4 separate regions of the Homo sapiens genome follow, and regions 2, 3 and 4 are each reported to be linked to region 1. The links are microRNA targets in miRTarBase. Many come from high-throughput screens and were not tested one by one. Region 1 holds a microRNA gene; each other region holds the end of a gene's coding sequence.

The links. Region 1 holds the annotated microRNA hsa-miR-8062 (CAGUGAUUUGAGGAUUAUUGC, at 4,673-4,693, shown strand). A microRNA usually pairs through its seed, bases 2 to 8, with sites in the 3' UTR of a target mRNA and lowers its output. Matches are read on the target gene's strand: a 7mer-m8 pairs with bases 2 to 8, a 7mer-A1 pairs with bases 2 to 7 and ends in A, and an 8mer does both.
Region 2: the mRNA of FBRSL1 is a reported target of hsa-miR-8062. Seed matches in the 3' UTR shown: 7mer-m8 at 6,125-6,131.
Region 3: the mRNA of DARS2 is a reported target of hsa-miR-8062. The part of its 3' UTR that is shown has no 7-base or 8-base seed match.
Region 4: the mRNA of RPP14 is a reported target of hsa-miR-8062. Seed matches in the 3' UTR shown: 7mer-m8 at 5,789-5,795.

What each region holds. Positions count from the first base shown.
Region 1 is chr20:7,366,946-7,374,719 of GRCh38, forward strand. It overlaps MIR8062 (microRNA 8062), which reads left to right and starts at 4,663; the gene lies at 4,663-4,747. It overlaps LINC01706 (long intergenic non-protein coding RNA 1706), which reads left to right. Exons shown (of 3, transcript NR_110610.1): 3 at 335-1,556.
Region 2 is chr12:132,583,231-132,590,984 of GRCh38, reverse strand. FBRSL1 (fibrosin like 1) reads right to left here. Exons shown (of 19, transcript NM_001367871.1): 19 at 5,797-7,754. The coding sequence ends at 7,207. Among named protein-coding and RNA genes, the nearest start is that of MIR6763, 5.1 kb to the right of the region's middle.
Region 3 is chr1:173,857,295-173,864,967 of GRCh38, reverse strand. It overlaps DARS2 (aspartyl-tRNA synthetase 2, mitochondrial), which reads right to left. Exons shown (of 17, transcript NM_018122.5): 17 at 6,422-7,450. The coding sequence ends at 7,263. GAS5-AS1 (GAS5 antisense RNA 1) reads right to left here and starts at 1,720. Exons shown (of 1, transcript NR_037605.1): 1 at 1,027-1,720. It overlaps GAS5 (growth arrest specific 5), which reads left to right. Exons shown (of 12, transcript NR_002578.4): 9 at 264-293; 10 at 462-484; 11 at 664-711; 12 at 893-1,067. It overlaps SNORD81 (small nucleolar RNA, C/D box 81), which reads left to right and starts at 746; the gene lies at 746-822. It also overlaps SNORD47 and SNORD80. RefSeq lists silencers at 2,240-2,369, 3,417-3,567 and enhancers at 2,621-3,337, 3,338-4,054.
Region 4 is chr3:58,316,896-58,324,570 of GRCh38, reverse strand. It overlaps RPP14 (ribonuclease P/MRP subunit p14), which reads right to left. Exons shown (of 6, transcript NM_007042.6): 5 at 7,578-7,656; 6 at 4,378-7,131. The coding sequence ends at 7,075. HTD2 (hydroxyacyl-thioester dehydratase type 2) reads right to left here. Exons shown (of 5, transcript NM_001348712.2): 4 at 7,578-7,656; 5 at 4,378-7,131. The coding sequence starts at 6,957. The coding sequence ends at 6,451. Among named protein-coding and RNA genes, the nearest start is that of PXK, 12 kb to the left of the region's middle. RefSeq lists an enhancer at 1,827-2,588.

The DNA of each region.
Region 1 (7,774 bases):
TATTCTTTTCTTTAAAGTCCTCAACCAGCTTTTTTTTAGTTAAATAAACCTGAAAATTTAGTGGATTTTCCCTGTGTAATTATTACAAATATTTCCTGTGACAGTGATATATCATGTAAGAGACTTATAGATAAAACACAAATAACTACTGAAACAAGTAAATTTTTAAAAAATCATTTTGAATCTATAACACAAATATACTACTTTCTAACAAAAGACTACACTAGACCATCTTGTTCTTTAAACATGTATGTTGTTCCTGATTCTTGGAAAAAAATATTTATTAGAATCTATCAATATACAAAACTTAAAAGGTATTTATTATCCTTGGCAGGGCCTTCAAGAGGATCAATATTTCCAGGATGTTGGTATTAGCATCCATTGTTCGCTGGCTAGATCTTTTCCAACAGAGCATGTGACTCTCATCATTACAGCAGAGGAATGCATTTATCAAAGTTAAGGAAGTCGTTTGCCATTCGGATGGCCCAAGAAGCATAAATATTTATCATTGAGCCTTGTGAGAACTCTCTATTATAAAAAGATTGGCTAATTTCTTAAAACTACTCCTTCAATAAGGACCCAGGTTATGTGCCATGGTATCTGTAGCTTTCTGGCTGGGTCAGGGTGACCCGCACACAACCCTGGCAGGACGCCCTTGGACACAGTATTTGCATCCCTTTGGTGTGCCAAGGTATCAAGCATTCACAGTTCACATTGAAACCACTAAACGAAGAGCTGTGCAAACAGGTCATCAGTTTCTCCAGAGGGGAATAATCTTACAACTGTTACGAAGGGTCAAAGGTAACTTTCATTTTGAGATGCTAATTACTCCAAGAATTTGATGCAGGAGGCAGCTGGTTAAAATGAATGAGTGCTGAAGCGTTGAAGGGGAAAATCAAATAGATGGTTATAATAAAAGTGCAATATGCAACCTAATAAGTATGCAGAGAATAAGGGACAATATTGTTAATAAACATCTATTAGTCAAGATGATCTTTGTAGAGCTGGGCTCTTTAATATTATAACTGCTAATCACATGCAATTAAATTTAAATTTAAGGTGGTTGAGATTAGAAATTCAGGTCCTCAGCCACAGAGGCCACATACAACATGTTCAATAGCCACATGTGGCCATTGGCTACCATATTGGAGAGCCCAGATATAGAACAGTTTCATTACTGCAGAAATTTCTATAGGACAGCAATGACCTGGAGTGTTTTGCTATTGGAGGGGTTTTGGACTTAGTGCTTTTATATAGGAAACATGATTTTTTTAAAGAAGCCATCCCATGGAATGCTTCTCTCATTCCAGTGCTGTAGTAAGGGTTGCCCTGAAATTTGGACCTAGAAAATTCACTTATCATAAACGAAAAAACTGTTACTACTATCAATAATATTTTTGTCCTGGTGAATATTTACATTGTACCACACACTGTGCTAGTTGCTTTATACATATTGTGTCATTTAATTCTTACCTTAGAGACTAAGATCTATCTGTGAATTACTTTGAGATAAATCAGGTTAAGAGAAAAATAAAAACTGACTTTAGACCACAATTAAGTAAATATATTTAAACCTAAAGCAATTATTGCTCTTTGAGAGAGAGAGAGAGAGAGTGTGTGTGTGTGTGTGTGTGTGTGTGTGTGTATGTGTATAACTGGCAGCCCATTGTTACTGAGATAACTACACAGAATTAAGCAATAAACTCTGCCAGAGCCTGGGATATAAGGACAGGAATAAAGACGATTATCAGAGACACGGGAAAGAAAGAGAAAGTGAGAGGTATTTGAAGATTCACTAAAGAGGCTGAGATTTAGTAGAAATAGTTGAGAAGCCTCAGAAATTTGGTTGTAAGATCCAGGCAAGCATGGAGAAAGGCTGCACTTTAGAGATTTGTGGGTTCCCAGGCTAACTCCAGAAAAGAGGATTAGGGCAGCAAGACTGATGCTGAAACCACCAAATGGTCATATTAACATCCGAGTTTCCTTCCAAGATCCAGTGCATAGATGAAAGGATTTAAGAACATGAGGTTGGATGTGGATTGCTCCTTTCAAAGACTTGGACAAAAGAAAAGTCACAGCCTCTTAATTTCTCTCAGTGAACCTCAGCCTAGCCATTAAATTTCAGAGGAAGCAGATGGCACACATTCAATGTTCTGGGATATGACTGTACACAGTCAGACTAAGAAAAGGTCACAAAGATGTAAAAAAAATAAGTGTTTTACATCAAGATGGTTGGTAATGAAAATACCCTATCCTACTCAGTTTATAGTAAATCGCTTCTATATAGAGTAATTTATTAAAATCTCAGAACATTAAGAATTACCAAGTCTTGATTTATTGCAGAAAATTTTGCCATGGTGTTTCCATTTAGAAACTTATTTCTTATCTTACACAAAGTAAAAAAACAATCTCTTTAGCACCTGGTATTATTAGTGAGGTATAACTGGGGTGACAATATAATTTATTATCCAAATAGAGACACTTTTGAGAATGAATGTAATTGTTTATAATTACAGCAAAACCACAGGTGTAAACTAGAACTGTCCAAGGCAAATCAGGGCAAACCAACAACCTAGGTATAGACCACAGCTGGATGCAATTGGACTCAAGCCATTTTCCCAGTCCAGCTGCTGAGTGTGACTCAAAGGCTACTCTGCTGTCAGCTGATTTACAAGCTGATTGAAATAATGATGCAAAGGCACAATGATGAAGATGTCCAACACCCATTTTAGGTAAAAATAACTAGTGTAAAGAAAAATACCATTGATCATTGTTGTTGAGTTTTTATTTTTAAAGAAACAGTGACTTGATAAAATACATCCAAGAAAAAAGAGTCTGATAACCAATCTCTACTCAGCATAGGAGGGCATTTCTCTTCAATTTTTAAAATAATAAATTAAAATAAATACTATCTTTAAGGTACTAAAGATAGCAAGGTTAGATATACTAGTTCAGCTAATCTACATTCCCACCAACAGTATAAAAGTGTTCCTGTTTCTCCACAGCCTTACCAACATCTGTTGTTTCTTAACTTTTTAATAATTGCCATTCTGACTGGCGTGAGATGATATGTCATTATAGTTTTGATTTGCATTTCTCTAATTATCAGTGATGTTGAGCTTTTTTTCATATGTTTATGGGCCACAGAAATGTCTTCTTTTGAGCAGTGTCTGTTCATGTTTTTTTGTCCACTTTTTAATCGGTTTTCTTGTAAATTTGTTTGAATTCCTGTAGATTCTGAATATTAGACTTTGTCAGATGAATAGATAGCAAAGATTTTCTCACATTTCCCCTTACTGGGTATAAACCCAAAGGAATATAAATCTTTCCATTATAAAGACACATGCACACATATGTTCATTGCAGCACTATTCACAATAGCAAACACATAAAATCAACCCAAATGCTCATCAGTGATAGACTGGATAAAGAAAATATGGTACATTTACTCCATGGAATACAATGCAGCCATAAAAAGGAATGAGATCCTGTGTTTTGCAAGGACATGGGCAGAGCTGAAGCCATTATCCTTAGCAAACTAATGCAGAAACAGAAAACCAAACACAGCATGTCCTCACTGATAAGTGGGAGATGAACAATGTGAGCACATAGACACAGGGAGGTGAACAACACACACTGGGGCCTTTTGGGGGTGTGGAGGGAGGGAGTGCATCAGAAGAAAAAGCTAATGAATGCTGGGCTTAATACCTAGGTGATGGGTTGATAGGTGCAGCAAATCACTATGGAACATGTTTACCTATGTAACAAACTTGCACATCCTTCACATGTACACCGGAACTTAAAAAAAAAGAAGATATACTAGTTAAGGTGTATCCTTAGGCATTAGAAGAACTTGGAGATTGAGGTGCACTACTGGTATTCAGTGAGTAGGACCTAGAGTTGTAGATGTTCTACAATGTGCGGAATAGTCTCACACAATGAAGAATGAACCTGGTCTTATGTGACATTCATGTGGGTGAAAAACATATTTATATATTAAGCCTAAAACTTAAATTCATTTTACATATAAATACAAAGTATCTCTTTTACACTGTATTAATAGCAACTACCAGACACATTGAGAAAATATATTCTTTATTTTGTTTGGCAATTTCTCAATAATTTTTTGCTATTTCAGAAAATCACATCACAGAAGGCAACCCTAGTCATTATTTTTAGTAGCTACACAACATATCTACATCTGTAACTGACATTTAAGGTGATCCTATGAATGAGTATAAGCATGACAACTTAATTATATCTTCCAATGTAGTTATGTCCAAACATTGACATGTTGAAATACTTATTTTATCATAAATTATTTTCCTCTTAATTTCATTTGCAATTTATTTTTACAATATAATTAGACCATTATATTGACTTAAAGATAAGTATGTGGGTAGTTTATATTATCTATGGATTTCATTTTAGAGTAGTAAAGGCTGTGTTATAAAATATCTTATATAATTAGTGGCCTGATAGGGCTGTGGAGCAGGGCTCCAAGGCAGTGCTATTTCAATGAGGTCTCAGAATTGGCAGCAGAGAGCTTGTTAAAAATGCAGATTCTTGGACTCCACCCCAGACCAACAGAATCACACTCTCTCATGCAGCATCCCAGTGATATGTGATTTATCAAGCCTTCCAGGTGATTCTTCTGCTGCTCTTATGCATGCAGTGATTTGAGGATTATTGCTCACGGTAAGAAAAACATGAGTAATATATTGTCTTCAAAGAACCTATGCTCTAACAGGAGATGTAAAGATATCTTTCTACTTGAGTTGGATGAGTAAGAAAATCACAGGGATCATGATCACCAAAAACACAATAGAAATTTGGCAATAACCTAATTCCAGAGACTATACACTAAACATGACATATCAATAGCAAAAAGCTGGATTCAGAGACAAGTTTAAACCACACAACTCTGATTAAAATGAACAGGACTCATGCTGTTAAGACTCTGTACAGTTCTAAAAACATACACAGCAGAGCACTTAAGCCGTTCCAGAACACATCATTCTCTACTTTTTAACAGGGAGCAAACAGCTGGGATGTGTTACTAGTAAGCCATGTTTTCATAGGCTTTCTGGTTTTCTTTAGCCAAACTCTTACAACAGTCTTCGGACAAATTATTGCCTGAAGCTATAGGAAGTCTTTAGTTGTCTTGGAGAACTGCAGAGTAAGTCAGGTCTCAAAGACAACATGCCCACAAGGACTTGCCTTGCCACCTTTGGCCTTTCCACCTTGGAAATGCCTTCACAACCAATTACACTATTCTCAAATGTCTGTTTATTTTTAATGACTCTAGTTAAATGTTAAGAGTTATTCCGATGACCTAGTTCAAGACTCTAAGAAAAAAAGCTTAGACAAATCAATAGACTAAACTGGGAGGCTTGCAAAGAAATGAACAAGAATCTAATCAATATCTTAACAAAAGACCAACAAATGGTTGAATTCTTGTAGGCCTGCATGGTTCTGAGGCCGACCTTGCTTTTCAAAAGACATTAAAGAGTTCAATATGGAAGCAGTGTTGTGAGAAATCACTTTCTCTTTCTAGATACTCTCATGTCCACTTTTGCTCTGGGAAATGTGTGTGTGTGTGTGTGTGCGTGTGTCTTGTTTTTCTAAATTGTCAGTACAGTGAAATAGTTGTCATGGGTTCACCAAAACAATTTTCAGAGATTTTCTTTCTGAATTTTGTTGGGAAAAGTCCTGAAACATTCCCTCCACTTCCACACACAAAAAGGCAGCCTCCCTAAGGTTCTTCCTTAGGTTCCCCCGGCACCTACATGGGTATCGGCAAACATTATTGAATCTCAACAAGCACATTTATTTCAGATTCTACACATGAAGGGTTTTCAAAATACTCTTCCGTACCCATGGTTCATAAGCCCATGGTCCAGAACATCTAGTGTCTATTTTTATAGCCCACAGGCAATTGCTACAGCTGTATAACCCTATTGAGAATGAGAAAGGGAGAATGTCACTAATTCTTTTGATATCTTAGGATGCAAATGTCTATGTGCTAATGTCATCTGCATAAAAGTATATACTCCCCACTTCACTTTGGCTGAAGGCAACTACACATTAATGGTTACATCCCCTTTTGTACTAAGAGCTACTCAAGGAAACATTTAGCAACAGGTGGTCCTAGCTGCACTTAAACCTTTCCCCTAGGGAACAACACACGCTTATACTGTACATTCCCAGGCCAGTAAACCCATGACAAAGTTATAACTCCCAGTAGTCAGCTCATTTAGGTTTATGCAATAGAATCCATCCTCTTTTTTGGGAATGGAAAATGTATTCCTTTCTGAAAAAGAGTACAGTATAATAGAAGGCATGGGAAAAAATCATTCAAAATTTACAGATTTGGGAGATAATAAAAATTCTACCAATGATCAACTTTGGAATTTACAGTAATAACTTAAGATTTCTGCTCATTAACAGTGTCAGCATGTATAAAAATTAAGAGGTTTAAGAATCTTAGAAGCCCTGTGAAAGGAATTTAGAAAGTGCAAAGATACATGCATTTGAATAAAAATTTGGCGCTTGTCAGACCATGTTTTTTTTATTGATTTTTACAGGGTAGATATGATCAAAATATTAAGAGTCATGGGATAAAATTTCTCTAAGGAAACTTTATCACCATAATAATCATTGAGAACTTCTATAAGTCAACATACTGTGTAAGGCTTTTGAAATACGTAAATAGATAATACGTAAACCCTGAACAGCATACTGTTTCATGGCTTTTTTTTTTTTTTTTTGAGACATGGTCTCAATCTGTTGCCCAGACTGGAGTGCAATGGTGCTTACTGCAACCTCTGCCTCCCAGGCTTAAGCAATTCTCCTGCCTCAGCCTCCTAAGTAGCTGGGATTACAGGCGCGCACCACTGCGCCCGGCTAATTTTTGTATTTTTAGTAGAGACGGGGTTTCACCATGTTGGCCAGGATGATCTTGAACTCCTGAACTCAAATGATCCACCCCCTTGGCCTACCAAAGTACTGGGACTATAGGAATGAACCACTGTGCCAGGCCACAGATGACTCTTATTTGCCGAATTCAGTACATCACTTAGGAGCACCTGTATCCTTTGAGAGTTTATTACAAATGCAGCATCTCAGGCCTCATCCAAGTCCTCTGCAACCAAAATGTGCATTTTGACAAGATCATGATTTATATATATGTTAAAGGTTGAGAAGTTCTGGTCTGTAACACTCAATATTTCCACTTCAACCTTCTAAACTAAAGAATTGTGTGACTTGACCTGTCTTCTAAAGAAGCCTTCACTTTAGTGTCATTACCTTTGTCTTCATAAAATATTCTGTTTTTTTAATAATCATTTAGAAAAATCCAATAAAACAAAACTACAGTCATTTGTTGCTAAATGAGGGGGATAATACCTCCTGAGGAATGTGCAGTTGGGTAATTTTTGCCCTTGTATGAACATCCTAAAGTGTACTTACACAAATCTAGATGTACTTCTAGGCTATATGGTATAGTCTCTTGCTCCTAAGCCATAAACGTGTATAGCATGTTTCTGTACTGAATACTGTAGGCAACTGTAACACAATGGTAAGTATTTGTGTATCTAAGCATATCTAAACATAGGTAATGTTCAGTAAAAATACTGTCTTATAATCTCATGGGATCATCATTGTATATGAAGTCCATCATTGACCTAAATGTTGTTATGAGGCACATGATTGTGAATTGCAAGCAAAAAAAATCTACCTTCTTATTTCTGTATCTAAACATTTGTGTGTTTAA
Region 2 (7,754 bases), not on the chromosome of region 1:
CTGGCATCATGGAGCACCCGCGGTTCTTCCTGGAGCATGAGGAGTCCAGCTCCCTCGGACGGTTCCACAGCACAGGTAGTGTCCCCAGAGGGAGTGGCTGCTTTCCTGATCACTCATGGATTCTTTTGCTTGTGACAAGGAACATGCATCAGTCCTATAATTTCTTTTTCTAAAATCTAGGCTGGCGCAGTGGCTCACGCCTGTACTCCCAGGACTTTGGGAGGCCAGGGTGGGTGGATCACCTGAGGTCAGAAGTTTGAGACCAGCCTGGCCAACATGGCAAAACCCTGTCTCTATTAAAAAATACAAAATTAGGCCGGGTGTGGTGGCTCACGCCTGTAATCCCAGCACTTTGAGAGGCCGAGGCTGGCGGATCATGAGGTTAGGAGGTGGAGACCATCCTGGCCAACATGGTGAAACCCCGTCTCTAATAAAATACAAAAAATTAGCCAGGCGTGGTGGTGGGCACCTGTAATCTCAGCTACTGCCTGTAATCTCAGCTACTTGGGAGGCTGAGGCAGGAGAATCGCTTGAATGTGGGAGGCGGAGGTTGCAGTGAGCCGAGATTGCGCCACTGCACTCCAGCCGGGGTGACAGGGCGAGATTCTGTCTCCAAAAAAAAAATTTTAGAACAAAAATGTAAAGGAGGGAAATCCCAACAGTTGAGTTGCTGTTTCCATTTACACGTTGAACTTGATGAGCAGGGGTGCCAGATCTGCTTCTCTGGGGCAGAAACAGGAGCCGTGAGTGTCAGGCCCAGGGACCATGCAGCCTCTGGGCCGCCCAGGTGCAGACACCTGGCCCCTGCTTGGTCAACTCAGCCCTCGAGCCTCTTCCTGACTAGGAGGCAGCCGTGTCCTGGTGGCCTCCCTAGTGGCAGGGTGGGGGGACAGGCGGTCACAATCCTCAGCCGCAAGCCGCTGCAGGATTACGAGATGTGGTTCTGACCCTCCCTGCCCCCAGAACCCTCCGGCCTGGCGGCTGGATGCTGAGCCTCTCGTGGGGCTGGGGTGAGGTTTCCAGGGGGCCACACGGGCTCAGCTGTTTCCATGAGGCCTCTTTTCCTGTTTGCTGCTGTGTTCAGCAAGGCCACATCCATCCCCCCGAACCCTGTCGAAGGGGACCCTGTTCAGCTCCGAGCAGCCCCGAGACCACCCAGGAAGGAAGGAATTGGGGTCAGTGTGAGGCAGTCGGTCTGAAGCCTTCATGGTAAATATTTTATGATGCTTTCTTTTCTATCTAGAAATGAAATTCAGTTCTTAAAAGCTTCACATATAATTTTAGGGAAAAAATATCTAAGGCCCCCAAATATATAAGCCCCAAACTGTGGTATAACAGAAAAATAAAAATAATTTATAGTAAAATGTTGTGGATTTGAAGTCCATGAAGGTCTCAGGTGTGCGGATGCCGGATGTAAAATGACCTTCAGGTTTCCCAAAGGCCCCTGGGTTAGTCCAGCTCCCACCAAGAACCTGGGCCCTTAGCCAGCAGGCCAGGTGCGGCCCACCTCCCCTGCCCTGTTGACGAGGGGTGCAGGCCCCCCAGTGTCAGCCGATGACACCTCAGCAGAGACCCTCTGGTGGTGAGGGGGAACCCTGGGGAGGCCCTGTCTTTCCAGACAAGGTTGGCACTCACCATCTCCCCTTCACTGATCTCTCTCCTTGGCAGGTGGATGTAATGCCTGGAGCTACAGCAGCTATTTCATAACTATGAGGCAATGAGCAAGGAAAGGCCAAGAGAATCACAGAAATGCCAGGCCTGACTCAAGCTCCTGCAGCACCTCCTGAACCTCTGCCTCCAGAACACGTGTCCTGTGGGAAAACCCTGTGTGTTGACAGCGTCGTGGTCATAGATCCTGTACTTGCAGGCACACTCCTTTCTCTCTGGGCCTTCCCCAGCGTGTAGAGCCTGTTGGACACAAGAGCACTGGCCACTGGCCTCTCCCAGCAGCGCCATGTGCCCTTGGGCTGTGGATAGGATCCCAGCCGACGCTGCAGAGAACTCAGCGTTGTCAGCTGTGAATACTTACAGCCTGCGTCAAGATCCTTGAATTCCAGGTTCCCGTCAGTGGTAGGAAGATCTCCATGGCACGATCTCTGGAACCTGCGAGTACGTCACCTAGAAGGCCACGTCTGAGCAAATGTGATTAAAGTAAGGATGTGGAGGCTGTGCAGCTTTCCTGGATTACCCAGGTAGAGTGTAAACGCAGACTAGTCCTCACGAGAGAGCAGGGGAAGCCCCGACACAGAGGTGGCCACCTGAGGACAAGGCACGGAGAACAGGCTAGTTTGGACACCCAGGGCATTCCAGGGTCCATGCCTGTCCTGGGACTCCACTCCCTTGCTGGTGAGGGGTCCAGGCATTGCCAGGAGGAGCCCAGCAGGGCGTCTGGGAGGCTTCCTCCTTCTTCGGTGCCTTTGCCCGTCCAGGACACACCTGGCCCCTGTTGCGTGCCAGGCCCTGAGTCTCGTAGTAACAGAATGGACTTTGATGCTGTTCCTCTCTCTCCTGGGCTGGCCAGGAGTCACTGCAGCTGCTTGACAAATGTCACCCAGGTTGAGTGTTTTTAAAACCCTGTATCTATTCTATGAAGGATAGAATGTTAAAACATATATTAAAACCTTTATTTTTCTGTCAACATCAGATGTACTTCCATTTGCCTGACCGCATCTTTCAGGTCTTGTTGAAATAAAGTAGAATTTCAACTCCTGATTTTTACAGCAGGGTCAGTCTTACCCAAGTTCTAAGTTACCCAGGTTCCAAGTTTTACAGGAGGGTAACTTAGCCCAAGTTCTAAGTTACCAGGTGAGATGGAAATAGCCTGACCAAAATCCTCCAGGGCCAGGGGGTGGGTTGCTTGGACTGCTGACCTTCTGAGCTGTGTGCCCCCTCACAGTGTTTCCAGGAGCGTGTACCCTCACAGAATGCTCCCGGGAAGGGGCTCCTCCTCACAGAGTGCTCCCAGGAGGGTGCTCCCTCACAGAGTACTCCCAGGAAGGTGCCCCTCCTCACAGAGTGCTCCCAGGAGGGTGCTCCCTCACAGAGTGCTCCCAGGAGGGTGCTCCCTCACAGAGTGCTCCCAGGAAGGTGCCCCTCCTCACAGAGTGCTCCCAGGAGGGTGCTCCCTCACGAATGCTCCCAAGAAGGTACTCTTATCACAGAGTGCTCCCAGGAGTGTACCCCCCACAGAGTGCTCCTGGGAAGAAGTCTACCTTGGATTCTGCACCATCAGAGATTACTCCCCTCAAGGATGATGCCTGGGGAGGGATGGCTGCCTCAGTGCCAGGGCTGGCCCTACATTGGAAGGCAGCCCAGAGGGACTGCCTGGATGGGGTCCCCTCCCCCCTTCTCTGTGCCTCAATGCAGGCTGTGTGCTTTGACTTAAAGGCGGACATTTCACCATTTCACTCCTTCACATGGCATCCCTGGGCTCGCAGGTAGTTCTGGCCAGCGGATGGCCCTGGAGTGCTGCCCACCCTCCAGCTGCCCACCCTCCAGCTGCACTGCCGTCCTCCCTCCAGCCGCACTGCCGTCCTCCCTCCAGCCGCACTGCCGTCCTCCCTTCAGCTGCACTGCCGTCCTCCCTCCAGCTGCACTGCCACCCTCCCTCCAGCTGCACTGCCGTCCTCCCTCCAGCTGCACTGCTGTCCACCCTCCAGCTGCTGCCCTCCCTCCAGTCACACTGCTGTCCTCCCTCCAGCCACACTGCTCTCTACCCTCCAGCCGCACTGCCGCCCTCCCTCCAGCCGCACTGCCACCCTCCCTCCAGCTGCACTGCCGTCCTCCAGCCACACTGCAGTCCTCCCTCCAGCCGCACTGCCGTCCACCCTCCAGCCGCACTGCCGTCCACCCTCCAGCTGCACTGCCGCCCTCCCTCCAGCTGCACTGCCGCCCTCCCTCCAGCCGCACTGCTGCCCTCCCTCCAGCCGCACTGCCGTCCACCCTCCAGCTGCCGTCCTCCCTCCAGCCGCACTGCCGCCCTCCCTCCAGCCGCACTGCTGACCACCTTCCAGCTGCGCTTTACAGGTATGTTCCCAGATCTCTGGGGCCACAGGGCTGGGCCCTGGCCCTGCCTCCTCCTCGCCGCTGGGCCCTGGCCCTGCCTCCTCCTCGCCGCTGGGCCCTGGCCCTGCCTCCTCCTCGCCGCTGGGTCCTGGCCTTGCCTCCTACTCGCTGCTGGGCTGCCCTGCAGGGGCCTTGGGGCTTTGGGTCAGACCAGCCCCAGGGCAGAGCAGGCCTGTGTGGGTGACTAACACAATCAGCTCACTCAGGGCAGAATATGCATTCCTGGGGTCTTCCTGAAGATTAGATGCATAGGTTGGAATAACCAAGACAAGGGGACGTGAAGCATAGCCATGTGCCGTCCAGCCGCGCTGTGGGAAAGGGCAGGCTGCATAGGCAGGGGCGGCCCTAGAAGATTAGAATGCTGGATTCTTTTCTTTCTGTCTTTTTTTTGAGACAGAGTCTCCCTCTGTCTCCCAGGCTGGAGTACAGTGGTGCCATCTCAGCTCACCGCAACCTCTGCCTCCTGGGTTAAAGCGATTCTCTTGCCTCAGCTGGGATTACAGGCGAGCGCCACCACGCCCGGCTAATTTTTTGTATTTTTAGTAGAGATGGGGTTTCACCATGTTGGTCAGGCTAGTCTCAAACTCCTGATCTCAGGTGATCTGCCCACCTCAGCCTCCCAAAGTGCTGGGATTATAGGCGTGAGCCATCACGTCTGGCCAGAATGCTGCATTCTTACTGTACCTTTTCATGCGCCGGGTTACAGCTGCCGATGGGATTCAGGAGTCACATGGGGTGCAGCCCAGGAGCAATAGGCTGCCCCATCCAGGTGTGTGCCACGCGCTGTGATATTCACACAGTGGCAAAATCGCATGACACATTTCCCAGTGTCTCCCCATCGCTAAGTGGCAGCTCACCGTAAAGGCTGAAGCCCAAGTTGGGACACACAGGCCTGCAGGGTGGTGGGGCTGACTCCATAGGAAGCAAACCCTTATATAGAAGCCCCACATGGCAGATGGTCCAGGCCCCAGACAATGACCTGGTGGGGCGTGGATTGGGACCTGCCCCTCCTGCCAGCCTGGAAGGGTCTTGTGGGACGCAGGGCACTCCTTGCTGGGCGCGCGGTGGGCCCACGAGGCCTCCTTCTTAGGTTGCAGCCCTGGGGCCCCTTAGTGAGGAGTGAATTGGCAGGGACAGGGTGGGGGTGACACTCAGGTCAAGGCCAGGTGTGCACCTGGAGCTTTCCTGACCATCACTCAAGGCAGGTGGGCCTGGCGCTCACTGCACTGGAGGGTGGGGGCTGCCACCTCTGCACCTGGCTCCTGCCCTCTGAGCTCCTGTTCCTTCGGGCACAGCCAGGGCAAAGCCAATCCCACAAGTCCCTGCGGGGCCAGAACTCTCTGGCACAAAGGCGGGAACTAAGAGCACCTTCTATGCAGAAAACCCCGTGGATGTGAGGGAAGGCGGCCAGCGGGGTCGCTGGGGGTGGGACGACGGGAGGCCGCGTGACACCCCCAAGAACGAAGGAGCACAATGGGGCATCCGGCAGAGCCAGGAGCTGGGGTTTCCACCGGGAGAGGTGGCACTGGGGGAGGGGGCTGGGCAGAGCCGGGGTGGCAGCAGGGCTGGGAAGCTGGGACCTGCTGTGCTTCACTTCCGGGGCGATGGCACCGGACAGCGTGGGGCCGCCGAGGCGCCCAGCATCCCAAGGTGCTGCAGGAGGGACGCACGGCTGCAGGGGTCAGCCTGGGTGAGCCTGGCCCCCCAACACCACAGAACACGCGACCACAGTTTCATCCAAATCAAGGCTGTATTTATCGTCACTGATTGACATGGGAACAGAATATTTAAAACAAACAGGGTCCACCGTGGAAATGTGGCTGAAACACAGAACTGAGCAAAGCAAGTGGCTCGACGGCTGACCCCGAAGGCTGGGAATCCCGGCAGGGACACAGCCCAGACATCGGGGAACACAAAAGGCCGCAAGGGGGGCAGGGCATGGGGGGGCTCATGTGGGTGAGGGCAAAACCCAAACTGAGAGGAGGCCAGGCCAAGGGCCTGGGAGGCGACGACCACACCGAGGTGACGCTGATGCCTCAGGCGGAAGAAAACACACAGCAGTGATTTTGTGTGTGTGTGTGTGTGTGTGTGTGTGTGTGTAAAATCAGCCTTTAGACTCTTGCACTTCTATACCTCCACCGATCTGGTCTACAGATTCCAAGAACACTGCACCATCCACACAAACGTCCACAGCATCGCCCTTGCGGCTGGAGCCGGCCAGTCCTGAAGCCCACAGGAGCCGCCCAGGAGTGCTGTTCTGCTGGCCCAGGGGCTCTGCTGGGGGACCCAACCCCTCCACGGACCCAGGGGCTGGGAGGTCGCTGGCGGAACCTTCCTCCCCCAACCAGCAGAGCCGCCGGGAAGCGCTTGCATAGTTGAAGGAAAGTTGCTGCCATTAAACTTCTGATAATGTTTACAGCCAGCAGCGCCTGGGTTTTTGTGACCATGTTAGACAAACAACCAGAGGGGTTTCTGGAAACGGTTTTTATAAAGTCTATCTAGATTAAGAATTTAGTAACGTCATATATTTATATCAACAGACTATTTACACGTTTCGTTTGCTTTTAAAAAAACAAACCAAAAAAGAAATTACACTTCTGCATAATAAGGCAAAAAAACAAAGTTTTGTACATTATTATTTTAATATAATCTGTAACTTCGGTTCCAAGTACCAAGGGGGGGCCAGGGCTGGCCTGAGTGGGGGCCTCACAGTGCGCTGGACAAAGTGACCGGTTTTTCTCCATAAATAAGACAAAGAAACCCTGGGGATCTGGAGAAGGATCTGAGGCCATTAAACTGCAAATCCCAACCGAAAACGAAGAAGCAAAAGTTTCTTTTTTGGTTCTTTTAAACGTCTAAAGAGCATAAAATTAAGAAAAATACAAATCCATTACAAACACTTCTCATCTGTGGGGGGAAAAGGTACAAACGCGATTTTTTTTTCCCAACAGCCGAATCCCAAACTCGGAAAACAAAAGATCACCCTCAGAAAAGCCGACACCCAAGTCCCCGCCTCCGCAGGCTGCGGGTGGAGAGGCGGCGCCGCCCCAGGATCGGCGGGAGCTGTGCTTGAGTTCTAGGAACTGATGGAGAGACGGACAGCGGTGCGCTCCGCTCGGAGAGGCGTCTGCGGCCCCGGGGCTACCGCGCCTCCACCTCCGGGGGATTTCGGGACGGGGAGTAGTCGCGCGCCTCGCCCGGCCCGAGGCCCCCCAGCGGAGTAGTCCGGCTCCGCGGCGGCCCGGGGGGCGTGGGGGGCCCGGCCGCCGTCACCAGGGGGGGCGGTGCGCCGAGGGCGGCGGCGGCGGGCGGGGTCCGCGCCAGGAGCCCATTGTGCAGCGCGGCGGGCGAGAGGCGCGGGAAGTGCAGGGCTCCCAGCGAGGGCAGCAGCGCGCCGTCCAAGGCGGGGGCGGCGGGCGGCAGGTGCGGGGCCCGCGCGCGCTCCAGCTCCCCGCGCAGGCGCTCGGGGCTGTAGCCGTGGGGCTCGCGGTCGCGGTAGGGGCGCTCCGGGGGCTCCAAGAGGGCGGCGGAGCCCGGGGCGGGGGCGGCAGCGGGGAAGGCGCGACGTGGCAGCTCCAGGCCGCGGAAAGGCTCCCACGCGAAGCCCGGCGCGCCCAGGCGCTCGCGGCCCAGGCCGAGCTGCAGGGGCGCGGGGTGCAGGCCGCCCGCCGGGGGCTCGGAGGCCTCGT
Region 3 (7,673 bases), not on the chromosome of region 1:
GGATTACAGGCGTGAGCCACCATGCCCCGCCTCAAGTCTGGTTTTTAAGTGTTGTAAAGCCGATACAATGATGATAACATAGTTCAGCAGACTAACGCTGATGAGCAATATTAAGTCTTTCGCTCCTATCTGATGTATCTGGCGGTAACATTCTAGTTTATGCCCCGAAAAGGGGAATATAGCCATTCTATAATGTTTGGAGATTTTGGATTACTCCTAATTGTATGCAAGTTGTCTTACTGTGTATTGTCCCTTAATTTCAGGACTCAGAATTCATGATTGAAGAAATGCAGGTTAGTTTAAACTTTGAAGGAAATTTTTAAGGTGGCAAAAGGTTTTGGTGGCATATACACCTTAATCTGTAGATGGGAGTGATTAGCTGTTTAAAAGTTAAAATGTGACTGAGAAGGAAATTGAGTAGGGCAAATTTTAAATGGGTATTATTTTTCATCTTCAAACAGGCAGACCTGTTATCCTAAACTAGGTGAGTCAGCTTTTGGTACATGTGATGATTTTCAGTGTAACCAATGATGTAATGATTCTGCCAAATGAAATATAATGATATCACTGTAAAACCGTTCCATTTTGATTCTGAGGTTACTCTACTAACAAGCATCACACATTTGTATTTTGCCCTGATTAATATGTTGGCTTCGCTTTCAGGGTTTTTAATGACCACAACAAGCAAGCATGCAGCTTACTGCTTGAAAGGTGAGGATTGGAAATGTTGGGACTATTATAATTGCAGAATACATGATGATCTCAATCCAACTTGAACTCTCTCACTGATTACTTGATGACAATAAAATATCTGATATTCTGCATTCCCATGTAGCATTTTAATTGAAGTCTGTAAATGTGGCTAAAAGTCTTGTCTTATTTTTTGAGACAGGGTCTTGCCTCACCCAAGCTAGAGTGCAGTGGCCTTTGAAGCTTACTACAGCCTCAAACTTCTGGGCTCAAGTGATCCTCAGCCTCCCAGTGGTCTTTGTAGACTGCCTGATGGAGTCTCATGGCACAAGAAGATTAAAACAGTGTCTCCAATTTTAATAAATTTTTGCAATCCATCTGGAGTGTGTAGTGTTTACTTAAAAAAGGACAGTGCTTTTCATCTGTTCATTAGCTGTAAGCATAAATCACATTCAAAAGCTATTATAACTCCATGGTATTTGCTTCATTAACACTGCAGCCAGTTAAAATTTTATGGGTATTTTACAAGGTGTCTTATGCATTAAAGTGCAATATTTCCTAATTCTCCATATGAGCAAATTGTCAGGTTTCATAGGCCCCTGTGCTAATTGGTTTTGAGCTTAAAGTATTGATGGAGCTACTTGGAGAAAGTCATGTTGAGTCTGAGGCTGGGAAAATAAGTTATAGAAAATACTATAGAAATGCCCAACTAGTGATAGGCATTAATGGAATTGGGAAAATCTACAATCCATAGCCATGGTGATAGGTTTTTGGCAAGCACTAAGTGTTTAGGGATGCCAAAAGTGGGTATAAAGGGCACAACTGGTTTAAGGCAATCTGTCCCAGGGAAACAGGACCAAGGGGCCAAAATTCCAAGATGGGTCAAATTTTAATTTCAGTGTCAGTACAGCTGTGCTTATAATGATGTCTTTGTTAGCAGTAATGGTTTTACAAATCTGTTTCTGGGCTAAAGCACTTTAGTCCCATTAATGATAAAACTTCAGTTACTCTCTGAATTTTCCTTTTTTTGAGACTGAATCCTGTTGCCCAGGCTGGAGTGCAATGGCATGATCTCAACCGCTGCTCACTGCAACCTCTACCTCCCGGGTTCAAGCGATTCTCTTCAGCCTCTTGTAGCTAGGACTATAGGCACCTACCATCACAACCAACTCATTTTGGTATTTTTAGTAGAGACGAAACCCCATCCTCCCAAAGTGCTGGGATTTCACAGGCCTGAGCCGCAGTGCCCGGCCTCCCAGGCCTTTTATGCTTGATGTTTTTTTCAGGGCCCTTCCCATTGTCATTTCACAATCTCATTGAAATGTCAGCTTATGCACTAAATGCGTGTAAGTTGGGAATGCCCAATTTTGTCTAAGAAAAAAGGCCTCCCCCTCCCCCAAATAAGCACATTCTTTCATTTCCTGGGGCTCACCCGAATGTCTCACACAGGCTGTAAAACAACTACCACCACCTGGCTGGGTGCTGAGGTGGGCAGATTACCTGAGGTCAGGATTTCAAGACCAACCTGGCCAATATGGTGAAACCCCATCTCTACTAAAAATACAAAAATCTAGCCGGGTGTAGTGGTGGGCTATTGTAGTCCCAGCTATTCGGGAGGCTGAGGCAGGGGAACTGAACCTGGGAGGCTGAGGTTGCAGTGACCCGTGATCCTGCCACTGCACTCCAGCCTGGGTGCCAGGGTGAGACTTTCTCAAAGGAAAAAAGAAGGCTGGGCGTGGTGGTTCATGCCTGTAATCCCACCACTTTGGGAGGCCGAGGCGGGTGGATCACACGGTCAGGAGTTTGAGACCAGCCTGACCAACATAGTGAAACCCCCATCTCTACTAAAAATACAAAAGTTAGCCAGGTGTGGCGTGCACCTGTAATCCCAGCTACTCAGGAGGCTGAGGCAGGAGAATTGCTTGAACCTAGGAAGTGGAGGTTGCAGTGAACTGAGATCATGCCACCGCACTCCAGCCTGGGCAACGGCGAGACTTGGTCTCAAAAAAAAACACACACACAAAACTACCACCACCTACCCCAATCGGTTACCCTTTACTTTTCATGTGACCACCATGACCTATTATGTGTTTTGTTCTTACTTCCCCCACAAGAATGTAAGCGCTTCAAGTTTATTCCTTAATGTTGGAAAAATGAATGAAACTGCAAATGTAGTAGATCAGTTTTTGGGGAGGTACCAAAGACAAGTTGGTAAAATACCTTGATTTTGAAGTGAAAAACGATGTTACATTTCAAAGTATCTTTTCGCCAGGTTATGGCTCAGGCTTCGAGACCAGCCTGGCCAACATGGCAAAACCCGGTCTCTACTGAAAAAAAGCGAAAATTAGCCGGGTGTGGTAGTGTGGGCCTGTAGTCCCAGCTACTCTGAACCCTGGAGGTGGAGGTTGCAGTGAACCAAGATCGTGCCACCTCACTCCAGCCTGGGCCTCCTAGGCTCAAGTGATTGTTGTGCCTCAACTACCTGAGTAGCTGGGATGACAGGTGTGTGCCACCACTCCCAGCTAATTTTTTTTTCTGTATTTTTAGTAGAGATGGAGTTTCACCATGTCAGCCAGGCTAGTCTTGAACTCCTGGCCTCAAGTGATCCAACTGCCCTGCCCTCCCAAAGTGCTGGGATTACAGGTGTGAGCCACTGCATCCAGCCAAGTTCTATTCTTTTTTTTTTTTTTTTTGAGACGGAGTTTCGCTCGTGTTGCCCAGGCTGGAATGTAGCGGCGCAATCTTGGCTCACTGCAACCTCCACCTCCCAGGTTCAAGCGATTCTCCTGCCTCAGCCTTCCAAGTAGCTGGGATTACAGGCGTGGGCCACCATGCCTGGCTATTTTTGTATTTTTAGTAGAGAGGGGGTTTCACCACGTTGGCCAGGCTGGTCTCGAACTCCTGACCTCGTGATCTGCCCACCTAGCCTCCCAAAGTGCTGGGATTACAGGCGTGAGCCACCGCATCCAGCTTCTTGTTCTCTCTTTTATATATAAGTGCCATTTGCTGAATCAGAAAACTTTTTGACAAGCATATTAAAAGATTTCAGTTGTATGTAGTAGCTCATGCCTGTAATCCCAACACTTTGGGAAACCAAGGTGGGGGGATTGCTTGAGTCCAGGAGTTCAAGACCGGCCTGGGCAACATAGTGAGACCCTGTGTCTACAATTAAAAAAAAAAAGAAAAAAAAAGTGAGCCGGGCATGATGGTGCATGCCTGTAGTCCCAACCACTCATGAGACTGAGGTGGGACGATCGCTTGAGCCCAGGAGGTTGAGGATGCAGTGAGCTGTGTCACACCACTGGATTCCAGCCTGGGTGACAGGGTGAGATGTTGTCTCAAATAAAATATTAAAAATTGGATCACCTTATTCAGCATTCTGTTGTTTAGCAGTTTTGGAATTTTAGTTGTTAGTAAATCTTGACCTTGAGTACACGTTATTTTGATATTCTGTGTGACAAAATGGGAAGTATGCATGAAGCACATCTGCCATAAAGTATGGATGTCTAGATTTTTTTTTCCCTAGAAAAAGTAGTTACAATTGTTTGAGATACAAGCTGAACTAGCTGCTTGTTTTCACAGAACATTTTTAGTTTGAAAAAACCTGACAAATTGATTATTCATATTTTAGGGGTAATTTTGGCAGAGATTTGCTCAAAAAAGAACAAGTCAGCTTGGAAAAAACTGATGGCATTTGTTGCCAATGATAAAACTCAAGCTTCCAAATGAAACCTAAAATTTTGGAAGGCTTGTATACACTTCTGTGCCCTTATAGCTTCCTCAGACTTAGACTTTTGTAATGGGATTGGTGGTAATATTAATTAATGGTATTTTGTTTTAGATATTGTATATCAAAATGTGTCAACATTTGGAAGATTTGCATAACTCAGTGAACCAATATTTTCCAAATGATCAATCACTGGACTGGTGTTACAAATATCACACATAGGTAAAAGTTCTATTTAAATACAAGGTACACCAATGGACTTTAGAAAAGCTCATCAATACGATTTCAGAATCCACATTGCAACTAGCCTTTAAGGAACTCTACTACTTGTCATATTTTGGTGTGGTATCAAAGAGAGTATCCATAATTATCAGACAAAGCTATTAAAATACTCCTCCCTTTTCCAACTTTATATATGAGTGGGGTCAGATTTTCTTCACAGACTTCAACCAAAACAGCATATAACAACAGATAGGATACAGAAGCAGATATCAGAATCTAGTGTCTTCTATTAAGCCAGAAATAAAAAATATTTGCAGAAATATAAAACAATGTTACTCTTCTATTTTTTTTTTGAAAATAATTATTTTTAAAATAAAAACATGGCTGAGTGTGGTGGCTCACGCCTTTGTAATCCCAGAACTTTGGGAGGCTGAGGCAGGCGGATCACCTGAGGCCAGGAGCTTGAGACCAGCCTGGTCAACATGGCAAAACCTCGTCTCTACTAAAAATACAAAAATTAACCAGGTGTGGTGGAGGGCACCTGTGGTCCCAACTACTCAGGAGGCTGAGGCAGGAAAACTGCCTGAACCCGGGAGGTGGAGGATGAAGTGAGCCAAGATCGCACCATTGCACTCCAGCCTGGGCAACAGAGTGAGACTCTGTCTCAAAATAAAATAAAATAAAAACATGCTATTTGTGTTAACATGTAATGGGTTATTTTAAAATGAATTTAACATTTTAAACTAAATCATTAAATCAATTATTAATTAATTAAATAGGAGGCTGAGGCAGGAGAATCACTTGAACCCAGGAGGTGGAGGTTGCAGTGAGCCAAGATGGTGCCACTGCACTCTAACCTGGGCAAAAGAGCGAGACTCTGTCTCAAAAAAAAAAAAGGTATAAATCAAAAGAATTTCAAGGCAGAAGTGAAGACTGAGTAGAAGAAAACAATTTCAAAATCACTGATCAAGACCTTGTTCTCATTTTGTCTTTTTTTGAAATGGAGTCTTGTTCTGTTGCCAGGCTGGAGTGCAGTGGTGTAACCTCGGCTCACTGCAATCTCCACCTCCTGGGTTCAAGTGATTCTCCTGCCTCAGCCTCCTGAGTAGCTGGGACTACAGGTATGTGCCACCACACCCAGCTAATTTTTGTATTTTTAGTAGAGATGGGGTTTCACCATGTTGGCCAGGATGGTCTCAGTCTCTTGACCTTGTGATCTGTCTGCCTCAGCCTCCCAAAGTGCTGGGATTATAGGCGTGAGCCACTGTACCCGGCCTCATTTTATAATTATTAGTTTATTAAAACTTTTATGTGTATGATTAGAACTTAAAATCACAATGAGTTTTGGTGTTCACTTTTTCGCACATTTGAGGTTAATCTAAGGTTGATTAGAATTTTCAATTACTTATAATTGAGAGAAAATAGTGTTCAGTGATTAATAATATCTTTGTTGTCTTTTTTTTTTTGAGATGGAGTCTTGCTCTGTCACCCAGGCTGGAGTGTAATGGCACCATCTTGGCTCACTGCAACCTCCATCTCCCAGGTTCAAGCAAACCTCATGCCTCAGCCTCCCGAGTGGCTGCGATTACAGGCATGCGCCACCATGCCTGGCTAATTTTTGTGTTTTTAGTAGAGACGGTTTCACTATGTTGGCCAGGCTGGTGTTGAACTCCTGACCTCAAGTGATCCACCCACCTCAATCTCCCAAAGTGCTGGGATTACAGGTGTGAGCCACCACTCCCGGCCAATAATATCTTTAAAACTAAAAAAAAAAACAGAAAATTGATAAGTAAAATGACTTTTACTATTGATATCAGTTTTGTTTAATCTGAAACTATAAAATAGAGATATATCTACCTATTTATGGATGGATAATACCATCATCTCATATTTGTGGAATGCTTTATAGTTTTTCAAAGTACTTTTATTCACTTTATCTTCCATATATGTTATCTCCTCTGATTCCAGCAATAACAGCCCGGTGAGGTAGCCAGGGCAAGTATGTATTTTACACATTAGCAGGAAGGGAGGCTAAGCGAGGTTTATGTAACTTACTCAGGCTGAAACACTGAAGAAAAATTTGTGACTCTCATTTCAGTGATGTTTTCTGCATTATTAAAAAATATTATGCTACTCCTCACTATATTATGTTGATGGTTGAAATGTCATTATAAAGCTTAATTTATATGATTCTCTTGATGAGGATGATGAAGCAAATGCTCCATCAACTCACTAGTTTACAGGGGCAAGCATTTTCCTACATTTCACACATAATTTGATTACCTCTGTCCTAAGTGAATAATCTACTATCTGGGTATGAGAAACATGATTTGAAAACACTAAACCACTATATTATTTCAACAAAGAACCATCTTTCACACCTAAGTAAAAAGGAACTTCAAAAAAAGTCCTAACCAAAAAAAATCCAAATGATGCATGAAATCAAGTCAAAATTGGGTATCTTTTATCTGTTTCTTCGTTGTGGTGAAGAATGTTGCCTGGATTCCTTCCATCTAAAGACTTGATTGTTAGACCTGTGGCAGAACTCTAGATCTGACTTTAGCCTTGGGGAAGCAAAGAGGACAAAACCTAAAAGCTCAACTTTCTGCATGGTATGCATGATTCAATGAGCTCTTTCTGCTTTGGAGTCTGTTGGCTTGGAGACTCGGATATGATAGGGCTTCAGTTCCTCAGGAGGGACAGAATCTGGGGTATTGCTCATGAGGTCATGTCCCCGGAAGGACTTTGGGAAGGCTATGACATCTCTGATGCTTGGAGATCCAGTGACAAGGCATATCAGTCTGTCTAACCCTGTGAGTAAAATACAAAGATAACAGATGAGAAATGTAATCTAATGTTGGAAATAACTTAGTTTTTCTATAAAAGTTGTAGAAAACTTTTAAATAAGAATCTTTAACAAACTGTAGCCAACCATCGTTCCCTACCTTTTTAGAGAACTTTTGTTTGTTTGAGAGGTTCTTTTCTATCTCATTCTGGAAAAGTATTCAGGACTAATGTTCACATGCTACTTGGA
Region 4 (7,675 bases), not on the chromosome of region 1:
AGGGGACTTTTGCCCAGGGTTTATAAGAAGGTCATTTGAATTGCTTTACAGCTAAGAACCACCTTAGGAATTAACTGTGGGGCCTCCTATTAATCTTGTTGTATTTATGCAGTGTTAACATTGGTTCTGGGTTCCTTATGATTTTTGAATTTAAATGGTTTCTTCTAGTTGGTGATTCTGCTCTAACCCACAGTTTCTCTGAAGATGCTGAGAATTAATTTATCTGCTGTGTTTGTAACCCAAAATAAAAGCAAAGATAAGAACAAAGGAGGTGAAACATCTGGGACACTGGAGATACCTGTGGACCAAGACTAATTCAGCAGCACTCCCATTCTGCTCAGAGCTAGATAATAAGCTATGCTGACACATGAGGCATTCACAGTGGCACAGTTGCTCAGAGTGACAGTCATCCCTTGGTAGAAAATGTTTTAATATGAAAACTTAGTAGATGTAATGGCAATTTTCTTTGGGAATAAATTGGTCTCTGAATCATACTCTAAAAACATAAAGGAAAAATGACTAATAATTCAGCACAAAATGAAAACCTGTGGTTACCTAAGAGGTATCAGTGTGCATTTAGCAATTTCTTCTTTTTCTAGGTGAATAAGCATGTCAGGTCCACAAGACAAATGGTGGCTGTTGCCAGGCTTTCTTCCCATTGCTACTCAAGATTTGCTCCTCAGAAAAAGGAATGAGTGGCATTTCACCAATATGGAAATGTTTCCAATAGAGTATAAAAATCCATTAAGCAATTTTCCAGTACATTAGGCTAAAAGTGCTTAAAACGAGTATCTCTTTCTGTGACAATTAAACATCACACAATTTGCAGTCGTATAATACCCCTATGTACAAAGTGCTCGGTCAACTTGGCCTATTTTAGTCATTACTTTTGTACTTATTTCCATGTGTGACCTGGTACAGTCAAGGCCACTTCTCAATTATCTGGGAGAGAATTTCCTAATTTGAGGGTCACTCAGGCTTTCATTAAGAGTCATTCTTTTGAGCAGTTTGTATAGACTCAATGAAAAAGCCAAGCAACCAGTTTTCCTTATAGCCAGCTTTAACAAAGCACGTGTGGTTTGAGAATCTTGACTCTGGATAAAAATGACAAGTTACTAAAGAGAAGTACTGATAACTTCTTGTCTACTTCTCTGTTTCCAACCTTTATTGATTTATAGATTTCAAAGACCATGACTCAGGGAGCATAAAAATGTGGAACTCTGTATGCAGAGGCTCATTCCAGCATTTTGGGAGGCCAAAGCAGGAGTATCGCTTGAGACCAGGAGTTCGAGACAACCTGGGCGACACAGTGAGACCCACATCTCTATAAAAAATACATACATTTTAAAAAAGTGAACATGAAGGCTGAGCACAGTGGCTCATGCCTGTAATCCCAGCACTTTGGGAAGCCAAGGTGGGAGGATTGCTTGAGCCCAGGAGTTTGAGACTAGCCTGGGCAACAAAGTGAGACCTCATCTCTGCAAAAAATCAAAAAATAAGCCAGATATGGTGGTGTGCACCTCTGTTCTCTGCTATATAGGAGGCTGAGGCAGGATTGTGTAAGCCCAGGAGGTGCTGCAGTCATTGCACCACTGCAACTCCAGCCTGGGAGACAGAGTGAGACTCTGTCTCAGAAAACAAACAAAAAAAAAAACAGTGGAAATGCTCACATTGAGTAGCTACTTTTGAAAGTTACACAGTATAAATCAACTATCATTCAGATCTGACATCCCTTCCGTACCCTATATTTTTCATCTTTAACCCTTTAAGCCATTCTTCGGTGAAGACAAATAATCACTGAATGTCGGCTTAGAAAATGTGTAGGTGATATGCATGGGTGGAAGACTTTCAACTAATAGTATTAGGAAAACGCTACAACTCTAGCGGGGAATAAGATCTAGAACATTCCGAAAGCAAAAAGATTGCTATAGAATGATTCCAATTATTTTAATGCCATGTAAGATGCCATTATAGAAACTGACAGTGCTCCAGTTCCAGCAACACGAATGAGGGAAATAAAAATATTTCACCCCAAAATATATTTGTCATATTTTCAGATGGCTGTTCAGAGAGCCAAAAGAAGCAGCCCTGCAAAGCTGTCTTTTTTGGAGAAAACTTGCATTTGCAGAGAATCTGCTTGATGCAGCCAGGCCTTCCCTTGTCTGGATCTCGGGAAGATTAACTTAGTCTGACACTTTAAAGGTCTGAAACATGCTGGACATGGTGGCTCACATCTGTAATCCCAGCACTTTGGGAGGCCGAGGAGGCCAGATCACCTGAGGTCAGGAGTTCGAAACCAGCCTGGCCAACATGGTGAAACCCCATCTCCACTAAAAATACAAAATTTAGCTGGGCATGGTGGCACATGCCTGTAATCCCAGCTACTTGGGAGGCTGAGGCCAAGAGAATCGCTTGAACCCGGGAGGCGGAGGCCACAGTGAACCAAGATCGTGCCATTGCAATCCAGCCTGGGCAATAAGAGCGAGACTCTGTCTCATACAACAAAAAAGGTCTAAAACATTTACCATCTATTCTTTTGAGGGCTGCCACCTGTGGGGCTTCATTTACATAACAAGACCACCTTTGCTAGCCAGGCTTCCCCTTCTCCAGCTCCCCGAACATGTTATGCCACTGATCCGAGCCCACACTCTTTTTGTAACCTTTAGGTGGTATTTAAGCTTCTAAACCCTATTGGGTGGGGGTTTGGGGGGTAATCACTCTGTAGCTCTCCCCTTCATGCAAGCTAATATATTGGTATGCCTTTTCTCCAATTAATTTGCCTTTTCTCAGTTGATTTTTCAGTGAACCTTCAGAGGGCAAAGGGGAAGTTTCCCCTTGGTTCCTACAGGAACCTAAGACCCACAGAGTGATGGAAAAAGGAAAGGCTTTGGAGCCAGGCAGGCCCAAGTTTGAATCCCAGCTGTACTGCTTATTCGCTGAACAACCTTGGGCAAGTCAGTTATCCTACTTAAAAACAGGATAATGTTAACTTCACACAGTTGTTTCAAGGATTAGCATTAATGTAGAAAATCAACTCATCAGGCATTGAAAAAATGGTGGCTATCAGTATCAATGATCACATCCCAATCCAGTTATGGACCTAACTTTAAGACTGCTGCTAAATCCCAGGGAATGAGTTCTGCAGGAGCAAGCAGTCCTGGCCTCAAGTCCGTATATTTGTGCATGTTCCCCATTTTGTTTTGCCATTTGAACACATTTTCAGCATGTCTAGTGATTCACCTATAAATGTCTTCTTCAAGTGGATCTCAGCCTGCACATGCTGCACATTCTGAAACTCACAAGAACAGTATCCTTGCTCCCCACATTGATTTTGGTCTTGTCTTCCACCTTAGAAAACTAGTATATGGTATAATACAGTATTAAAGTTTTAAAGTACTAACTTTATACACAACACTGCCCTCTAGCGACTAGAATAATTTTTTTTTTTTTTGAGACGGAGTCTCGCTCTGTTGCCCAGGCTAGAGTGCAGGGGCACGATCTCAGCTCAATGCAACCTCCACCTCCCAGTTCAAGCAATCTTCCTGCCTCAGCCTCCGAGTAGCTGGGATTACAGGCACGCACCACCACACCCAGTTAATTTTTTTGTATTCTTAGTAGAGATGGGGTTTCATCATGATGGCCAGGATGGTCTCAATCTCTTGACCTCGACCTCGTGATCCGCCTGCCTTGGCCTCCCAAAGTGCTGAGAATTACAGGCATGAGCCACCACGCCTGGCCTAGAATAATTCTTTCTAGTTGTCTGTTCAGCTGCTCTCTGGGTAAAAATTAAAAATTCTGTCATAGATTGTCTTGAATGTGTTGGCTGACATTAGAGAAATGGAAATCATAACTACAATGAGATACCACCTCATGCCCAATAGTAATTTGAACAACAATTTGACAATTCTTTATAATATTAAAGTTACATGATCCAGCAATTCCACTCCTAGAATTTAAAACCTGTCGGCCAGGCGCAATGGCTAACGCCTGTAATCCCAGCACTTTGGGAGGCCGAGGCAGGCAGATCACGAGGTCAGGAGATCGAGACCATCCCGGTTAACACGGTGAAACCCCGTCTCTATTAAAAATACAAAAAATTAGCCGGGCGTGGTTGCAGGCGCCTGTAGTCCCAGCTACTTGGGAGGCTGAGGCAGGAGAATGGCCTGAACCCAGGAGGAGGAGCTTGCAGTGAGCTGGGATCGCACCACTGCACTCCAGCCTGGGCGACAGAGCAAGACTCCATCTCAAAAAAGAAAAAAAGAAAATATATATATATATATATATTTAAAACCTGTGCACATAAAAACCTCTTCTATAATGTTCATAACATTATTTTTAACAGCCCAAAAGCGAAAATAATCCAAATATCAACTGATGTATGGGTAAATACAATGGAATATTATTCAGCCATAAAATAAAATGATGTACTGATACATGCTGTAACATGGATGAACCCTGAAAACATGCTATATCAAAGAAGCCAGTTCCAAAGGATCATACATTGTATGAACTTTTATGAAATGTCCAGAACAGGGAAACCCATAGAGACAGAAAGTAGACTGGTGATTCCCAAAGACTGGAGGAGAGAAATGGATTGACTGCTAATGGGAGGTTCTTTTGGGGGTGATGAAAAATGCTATAAAAAATTGATTTGGTGATGGTTGTACAACTTTGTGGATATTCTGAAAACCACTAAACTGTACACTTTTAAAAGGTGAATTTTATGGTATGTGAATTATATCTCAATTTTATTAAAAAACGGGAAACAAAAAAAAATGGGAAACAAAAGTGTTGGCTGTGTTGGGATGGCCATTTAGTAGTAACATGTTAGGCACATCTCCCCTTCAATATAACCTCCCTGACCCCAGCCCCCAAAGTCTTAAGAATTTGGCCTCCATAATCTTCTTAATATTTATTTCTTACAATTTTTTTTTTTTTACTATAAGCATGTATTACTCATAATAATGGGAGGTAGATCCAAATTTTCAAGGAATAATCTGAACTTTTATAACAGAAACTGTACTTAAGAACACTAATAGAGGTTGGCTGACACCCTGAAAAACTGGTCTGTTACGTTTAACTGTGGGCCAGTCAGCTTCAAACTCAGGAAAACCTCTCACCTCAGTTGCAGGGGAAATGGGCAACAATAATAGTAGCTACTGCTGACAGGCTGGGCCCTGTGCTTAACTCCATCTATCATCTCCACCAACTATCCCACATGGCATGTGCTACCACTATTTTACAGATCAGACCGTTTACATAACTGAGACCGAGGATGCACATACGCCCCTCCCCTGAAACGCAAGTCTCACTGAAGGTAGACTAAGATGCCACCTTGGTGTAAATAACAAATTACAATAAACTCTGACTCAGATACTGAAGAACAGTCTAAAAATATTCATTGATAAAAGGTAGGTGTTCAAAGATGACCCAACTTCTATTTTCGCCTTCAATAATTGTTACACAGTTAAAATACAGTGACAAGCTGCTTCCACATGGCTATAGGTAGGGATTTGTTATCCAAATGCAAATCTATCTAGGTCTGAATTTCTAAAAGTAGAATCTTTTTTTTTTTTTTGAGGTGGAGTTTTGCTCTGTCACCCAGGCTGAAGTGCAGTGGTGTGATTTCAGCTCACTGCAACCTCCCAGGTTCAAGAGATTCTCCTGCCTCAGCCTCCCAAGTAGCTGGGATTACAGGTGCCCGCCACCATGCCCGGTTAGTTTTTGTATTTTTAGTAGAGATGGGGTTTCACATGTTGGCCAGGCTGGTCTTGAACTCCTGACCTCAAGTGATTCGCCTGCCTCAGCCTCCCAAAATGCTGGGATTACAGGCGTGAGCTGCCACGCCTGATTTAAAAGTAGAGTCTTTAAATAACCTTCCCAATACTTCTTTCTTGAGACAGGGTCTCGCTCTGTCACTCAGGCTACAGTGCAGTGGTGCAATCTCAGTTTCTCACCATAACCTCCAGCTCTCAGGCCCAAGCAATTCTCCCACCTCAGCCTCCCAAGCAACTGGGACTACAGGGCCAAGTCACCAAGCACAGCTAGTTGCACTTTTTTTTTTTTTTTTTTTTTGGTAGAGATGGGGTTTCACCATGTTGGCCAGGCTGGTCTTGGACTCCTGACCTCAAGTGATCCGCCTGCCGCAGCCTCCCAAAGTGCCAGGATTACAGGCATGAGCCACCGGGCCCAGCCTACTTCTTGAATTAAAAAACAAAAAACAAACAAAAAACCCAGGCAGATAATGAAATCCTGCATACACTCAAGTCTGCATGAAGCATAAGGCCAAACTGGAAAGTGGGCATTTGAACAACCCTCTTCCTGCTCCCTTCCCCTAACTAAGATGGGCTTCTGGGCCTATCAACCATTCTTTGGTAAAGAGCAGCAATTCCCCATAGGCTCTTTAACAACAGCATTGGTGTTTGAGGTTGCATCTTTAAAACATCTATTTCAGGATTTGGAAGCTTCTGGAACCATAACTTTAACCCAGCCTTCCATAACAGTCTTTTTACTTTCTATTACAGAACATGACACTGCAATAATAGCAATGAACCGCTTCAGCTTTTTCACTTCTGCAGAAGCTAAAACAACTTCTCCAATATATAAAGGGGCTGGAAAGCTAATTTCCTGGGAAAGAAATACACAGCCTGGCCCTGGCATTTTAGTTCCTAGGAGAGCTGAGATAAGTCCGTTGATCAAAACTCCATGTACAATTGTATTTCCAAACTTGGTGTGTTTTGCAAAGTCTTCATTCAAATGCAAAGGATTGACATCCCCTGTTAATTCTGAGAAGGTAGCCACATCAGTCTGTGTGAAGGCCCTCCTAAGTTCAGCGCGGTCTCCAACTTTGATGTGCATATGCTGAAAGTGCTGCAGGGTCAGCACTGGCAGGTTCAGACAGACTGTCCTCCGAAGCCCACCCCACCAAAGGTGATGGCTGGAAATTAGTGGGAACATCTTCAGCACCCTCAAATTTCATCAAGAGCTTTTAGCCTGCTTCAGTCTTCAAACATGCAGGCACCAAAAAATAAATATGAGAGTGGATGAACGTTTCCAAAATGGAAGACTATTCATTCAATCCAATACTAGTTCCCTACTATTACCAGATAATGCAAGAAGAAATGGAGAAACCTAGAAGAGAAAGAAAAAGGTTAAGGCATTGGGAGAAACCACACTGAAGCACAGGGCAATGGGGAAACATGCCCAGTTTTACAGGATAAACAAAGCTGATGCAGGAGCATTTTACAGAGCATCCTGAGAGGAAGCCTTCGATAACAAGTGGTCACATCTCAAAAAGAGCGTACCAATATATAACACACAAGGCATTAAGTGTTAAATAAAAAAAGTAAGCCTTAACCACAGGGTTGCAAGTTTTATCCCAAAACATCTCCCATAGATTTTAAAATCTAAGTGCTCTGTCTCACATTTTTGGAAACAATCAAGTCCTTTATTTTCCCCTACTTAGATCATTTTAACCATATTACATTTATGCAAGCACAAAAATGAGTTGTGTATATTAAGAAGCAGTTGACCCATCACTCAGTCTTGTTTGGAATATGTGAGGGAATAGTCTTTACCTGAATCACCCGGAAAGCACATTTTTTGCCTTTATAGGATCCTAACAGGGTCAAAGAGCTCCACAATTTGACAAGACCACTGCAGAAAGATCAAGAAA